Homo sapiens: one gene and its partner. The protein of the gene in region 2 purifies or fractionates together with the protein of the main gene of each other region. This does not show direct contact. Each region holds a gene or a part of one and is shown on either strand. Other genes may lie near its edges.

Region 1 (3,137 bases), on a different chromosome or scaffold from region 2:
AGACTTCTCTGACAGACAAGACCTCACTACAACAGGAACTCAAGGAATGCTCCACACTTTGTTTCTGGCCTTTGGCTACTGTTCTTTACTGGGGTACCACTTCCCTAGAGTACCACCTTGGCTAACTCCTCCTCATCCTTCAGGCCATTTCCCCCATTTCCTTATCCAAGGCTGAGTCAGGTGCTCCTTAAGGTCACATAGGAGCATTCCACTTTCACTGCCTGTCTGGCTGCCTTGCCCATTAGACTGTAGAGACTACAGTCTTGTTTTCCACTGTATTCCTAGTTCCTGGGACAAAGTAGGTACTCAAAAAATAACCTTTGGGTAAATTATATTCTTTCTTCTCATGCCTATCTAATTCCTGGCCTGCCCTGGGCTCAACAAATCATTGATGAAGCCATTTCCCCACCTTTCCTGCTGCTCTGTCACTGTTCTTTATTGGGTCAGTTTTTTTTTTTTTTTTAGTTCCTGAGACGAAGTGCCTCACACAGTCCACACCAGCCCCATAACCTGGCACACTAACAATCAGATGCAGTGACAGAGCCTGGGTTGCTATATTCATGACACTTTCATACAAAATGAGGTTTCAATGTTACATTCCCACTTTTCGTATTTCCTGAGTATTCCTAATAAGAGAAGAGCTGGAAGTAATGATTCTTCTGTATTCTGTTCTGATTAGTCACAGGAAAAGCTTTCAAGGGACACTTTACATTAGCACTGGGAAATGCTGCACAAAGCAAGCTAGACTCAAGACCTAGTATTTTATAACCTTTATGGAGTTTTGCTCCAAAGTAAACTCTTTTGACTAACAAACTTAAAAATCTGACTGAAGTATTTACACTATTCACAGTATTCACAAATTACTTTATAGTGTGGACTCTTTGATGGCGCATAAGGACCGATCTGTGCCTGAAAGCCTTCCCACATTCATTACATATATAAGCTTCATCCCCAGAATGAATTCTCTGATGCTGAACAAGGGCTGAGCTCCTTTTGAAAGTTTTGCCACATTCATTACACTGATAAGGTTCCTCCCCACTATGAATTCTCTGATGTCTGATAAGGTTTGAGCTCAAACTGAAAGCTTTTCCACATTCACTACATTCATAGGGTTTCTCTCCACTATGTATTCTCTGATGAGTAATCAGCTCTGAGCTCTGCCTGAAAGCTTTTCCACATTCATTACATTCATAGGGTCTCTCTCCTGTGTGAATTCGCTGATGTCTAATGAGTTTTGAGCTCTGGCTAAAGGTTTTCCCACATTCATTACACTCATAAGGTTTCTCACCAGTGTGAATTCTTTGATGTATAATGAGATATGAACTTTGACTGAATGCTTTGCCACACTCATTACATTTACAAGCTTTCTCACCAGTATGGATTTTCCGATGTCTAATGAGGGCTGAGCTCTGATTGAAAGCTTTCCCACATTCACTACATTCATATGCTTTCTCACCACTATGAATTCTCTGATGAATAATAAGATAGGACCTCAAACTAAAGGCCTTCCCACACTGGTTACATTTATAGGGCTTTTCTCCAGTATGGATTCTCTGATGTTGTGTTAGAGAGGAATGCTGCTTGAAGCTGTGCCCACATACATCACATCTATAAGGTCTCTCTTCTGGAGGAACTTTCTGACACATTATAGAGTCTGTAGTTAGAATCAAGCATCTTTCAGCCTCATCATAAAGGTCTCTCTTTCCTAGAGATTTGTTTGTGAAGATCACTTGACTAAAACTGCCCCCTTGGGAAGGAGATCTTAGTTTCTCCCCTGTAGCACTTCCTTGCTTCCACACTAAATTGCTTTCATGCTCACTAATTCCTCGAAATGAAGGTTCCTGAGGGAGTCCCTGTGATTTTTCTTCTGAGATGCCCTCTTTTGTTGCTGTTTCACTGTTCTCACAATCTGAAACAATAAGTAGCAAAAAAACAGATATTACATTTCTCTTGTCACCGTCAAAACTTTCTACATGAGAGAAAACAGAAGCTTCTACCTACAAAGATGTCACTGTCCTCCAGTATCTTTTTTTTCAACTGGCCAAAAGAGGGTCTCTCTTATCTAATAATAAAGTCTACATCTACACTTCGAATTCCATCCTTTCCTGCCTCTTTTGAGACATCAACTGATAAATTACCTACAATTTTTTTCTACTATTTACAATCTCTTTCTCAACTGATTCCTGTTCATCAGCTTTTAAATAAGCTTAAGTGTCTCTCACCTTTTAAAATCAACCTTCTTGCCTACATATCTCCCTCAAGCAACCTCACTCTCTCTCAAGTGGTTTCGCAACCTCACTCTCTCATAGTGATTTCTTGAAAGAGTTGTCTGCAGCCTTTCAAGTGAAAGTATCCTCATTCCACAATCTGGTTTCTGCCTTACTGTCCTCCCCCGCCCCCCACCGCCCCGTCCCCTACTTCCACTGATACTACTCTCATCAAGATCACTTCATAGCTCTTTAATCCACTAAGTACTTTCTAGATTATTACTTAGCCTCTCTGTAGCATTGACACTGAGGATCACACCTTCCTTCTAGAGACATTCTCTTCCAGTGATATTAGCCTGATTTCTGTGGCTGTTCCTTCTTAGATTCTAGGGTAAATCACTCAAACACGAGCGTTCCTCCAGATTCTGTTTTGGGCTCTCATGTATCCTTACTCTACAAACTCTCTACCCTTGGCTTCCATTACATCTTACATTGTAAGCTATTGTCTGACTAATGTCTGCCCAGATCCCCAATTATATCCATATTTTATTAAGCTCTAGAGTCTTATGCTAATTGGGCATTTTACTTTTGAATATTTCACAAGCACCAAATGTACCAACCTAAACACATCATCAGATGTATCTGTTTTTCCTTATGTTTTCTCATTCACATGAACAGTACTACCATTAACCAGACTGTTGAAGACTGAAACCTCAGTATCATCCTCAACTCCTCTCCCTCACACTCTAGTTTTAATAATTACCAGATGTTGCAAAACAACTTAAATGCTGTTGAACAGGAGTCAGCTTTTATGTTCTCCACCGCTTACCATAACACATATTGATTGAATACACTGTGGCCACTTGGATTACAGCAGTCTTTAATAGGACTATACTCTTGCCTTCCTTACATGATTCTCCATTTGCAGCT
Region 2 (3,500 bases):
TCCATACAGTACTTCTGGAAAGGAGCTAAAGCTCAGCCCTGTGGCAAGCACACAGTAGGTGCTCTGTAAACGCTCCCTGGATGAGGAGGAGGAGGAATGGTCTGAACTTGGTGGTAGCAGTCCCATTTAAGAGTTGGAGGAACTGAGGCTCCGAGAAGTGAAGGGACTTGCCTGGCGTCATCCAGCAAGCAGGTAGTGATTAGCTAGGATTCGAATCGGGGTCTCTCTGCTCTTGGCTGAGCAGGGCAGCAGGATGACAGGAGGCAGGGAGGATGAGCACAAAAAAGTAATGCAGGATTTGGAAACAGATGCCAGACAAGGAGAAGAGAAAGGGTGCATGCTAGCACGGAGCAGGAGAAGAAGGGGCGTGCGGAATGAACCCTGAGAGAGGGGATGGAAGGGGCTCTCCCGGGGCAGAAGCGCCATAGACTGTGATGGTAGCAGTTGGGGCCAAGGGGTGCACTGACTGAAATGATCGAATGTGAGGGGATTTATCATCTTTATCTCCCCTACAACTCATCATCAGTAACTCTAGTAGGAAATTCTGTTTGTTTACTTGTTTAGGTTTTTTACATTTCTCTCCATTAGTGAAGTGCTGATCATATTAAGTCACCAGAAGCAGCAATGAAGTGATAATTAGTTTATAATGATCCTTTGTCCCCACCACAGATTAAATTGAAATTCTCAGAAGCCTGGACTCTGGCCAGGCGAAAGCTATTGGAAAGCAGAGGCCTTTTTTTCTTCTTCTTAAATTTCTACCATTCCAGATCCCACGACGACTGAGAAGAAGACAAACATTTCAGAAGGAAGGTTCTAGCTGGGTGCAGTGGCTCACATCTGTAATCCCAACACTTTAGGTGCCCAAGGCTTGAGCCCATGAGTTCAAGACCAGCCTAGGCTTGGTGTGACTCTGTATCGACAAAAAAAATTTTTTTAAAGTTAGCCAGGCACATTGGCATATGCCTGTGGTCCCAGCTACTCAGGAGGCTGAGGCAGGAGAATTGTTTGAGCCCAGGAGTTCGAGGCTGCAGTGAGCCATGATCACACCTCTGTACTACAGCCTGAGCGACTGAGCCAGACCCTGTCTCAACAACAACAACAAATAGAAGGGAAGGTTCTGCTTGTCCCCACAGGGTGTGGCTTGCCCCCATGGTTCCAGGCAACAAGCCAGGGAGCAAGGAACCAGGCAGCCATTCTGAGGCCATGATCCCTTTTCAATAGGAGAGTTCACCTCCAGCTCCTAAATCCTCAAGTTCCCAAGATCTGCTCTCTCAGGTGAAGGTGGGGTGGAAGTCAGAGCTGCAAGTGCAATCTCAAACCACCGTGGTTCCAAAGCAGATTTAACCGGCTATTTTTGCTCATATTCAGGTTAAGAGTAGAAGCTTCAATATCTGCCATAAAAAGAAAGATGTGCATTTGGCAGATGGCAGGGGGTACACTGTGCTGGCAGCCAGGAATCAGGTTTGTTTTCCGAGGAAGGAAGGTGCCTCTGAGCTGTTTTTGCTCCTCAACGTCACACTACCGAGAGAGGCCCAGCCGAGCCACAGGCAGCGCAGGGGCTTGGAGAAGTGGTCAGGAACAGGAACCGGCTGCCACATGGTTGACTCTGCCCTGCGGCAGCATGCCGGATTTGGGTAGATGAGAGGACAGTGTGGGTGCTTGTCCCCTCTTTATTAGGGAAGATTCTGAGCTCATAAGCAAATGCCCTTACAGGAAGAAGAGACGAAAGGAAATCATTCACTTGCCGAGTACTTTGCTCTGTACTAGGTGCTTTTCCCCTATTAAACTACCTGATCTTTACAGGGATCCTACAGAAGTTCCTATTATCACCCCCATTTCACATGCTATCACCCTCATTTTGCATGCAAGGAATCTAAAGATCAGGGACGTTAAGAAGCTTGCCCTAGGCCCCATAGCCAGTAGAGGGTGGGCCCATATTCAAACTCATATTATCCCTTTCACCTCAAAGTCCACATACTCTCCAATGTTCAACTCTAGAATTCTCCAGCCTCGCCTCAGGCAGAGGTTCTCCATTCAGGGCAGGGAGGGTGAGAAGAGGAGCCGAAAATACCACTTGAAATGATCCTCTTACTATTTCCGTAGTATATGCTTTGGAGGGTCGGCCTAGATCTTTCTAGCAGGTGTGGATATGTGGAGCAGAGGGAGAAGCATTTTAGGGAGCAGGGGTGAGCCCAAGGTGCTGTCACATCGCCTGAACTGCAAACACCATTGGTCCATGGGACAGGACAGCAACTCCTGTCTGCAGAGTAATGTGAGCAATGCCACCGGGGAGCAACCTGAAGGCCAGGCCCTGTGACATCCTAGCACAGTGCCTGGCACGCAGTAGGGTTCAGTGTCTATCACTGTTGCTGAGTGAAAAGGAGTTTACACTTGATACCTTCCTTCTCGCCCCATCGTGTACCTTAAGGTGATTTTCCACTGCACCACCGAGCGATCGTGCCCTCCCGCAGTGAAGGCGTAGCAGCCATCATAGGAAACGGCCATGCCGGCCACCCCGTTCGGGTGGCAAACAATAGCAGATGTCTTATGTGGATTGCCGTCAACTGGTAAGATCTGAAGTCCCACCTAGAAAGGAACACATAATTGGATATTCAGACTCAGGTAGCTGGGCCCGAGAGAGGCCTGGCACGTTCACATGTCACCTCCAGATCTGTGTGCCAGAAGGACCTGTGTGTCTGGACCCATCTCTGAGTGTGAGAGCCACATTTAATGTAGCTGGGCATCCACACACACCAGCCCTGGTAGGGGGCCCCTTGCACAGCTCTAACAGGTACACAGAAGGGAAGCTTTCCTCCCTGCCTTCATGGTCAGTTGTCCAGGGTTTTCCAGAATACATCTCACAACCTATGACTTTACACTTTTCTTTTTTTTGACGGAGTCTCACTCTGTCGTCCAGGCTGGACTGCAGTGGCGCGATCTCGGCTTACTGCAAACTCCGCCTCCCGGGTTCATGCCATTCTCCTGCCTCAGCCTCCTGAGTAGCTGGGACTACAGGCGCCCACCACCACGCCCGGCTCATTTTTTGTATTTTTAGTAGAGACGGGGTTTCACCGTGTTAGCCAGGATGGTCTCCATCTCCTGACCTCGTGATCCACCCGCCTTGGCCTCCCAAAGTGCTGGGATTACAGGCGTGAGCCACCTCACCTGGCCCGACTTTACACTTTTCAACGCAGATTATTCATTAAATGTACAACAAAGTGTAACTAATTTGCATATTTTTACAAGAGTTTTTCCATGTAAATAAATAAGAAGGAAAAATCCTTTGGTGGCCCATGTATCTTCACTGGGAATATAGAAAATGCAGTAACTCTGCTCAGAAATGTCTCCCAAGAGTCTTCCTAACTCATCAAGGGCAATTTTCAGTATCACAGCTGACTGGGGTGGAAGCAGTTGGGCTTGGCTGTAAACCCAGAACTCTCTGAGTCTCGTGATCTTCAGTAATGACTGCTGCTCATGACACACAGAGTCAACTCCCAGAA

The links. The genes of interacting proteins can lie anywhere in the genome.
Region 1: the proteins of CFAP251 (region 2) and ZNF397 purify together in Homo sapiens (co-immunoprecipitation; one large-scale study listed by IntAct). This does not show direct contact.

The regions. Positions count from the first base shown.
Region 1 is NC_000018.10:35,244,034-35,247,170, reverse strand, and holds part of ZNF397 (zinc finger protein 397), read right to left. Parts: intron 1,910-3,137; coding exon 861-1,909; 3' UTR 1-860. UniProt on the Homo sapiens protein: Isoform 3 acts as a DNA-dependent transcriptional repressor.
Region 2 is NC_000012.12:121,967,092-121,970,591, reverse strand, and holds part of CFAP251 (cilia- and flagella-associated protein 251), read right to left. Parts: intron 2,587-3,500; coding exon 2,423-2,586; intron 1-2,422.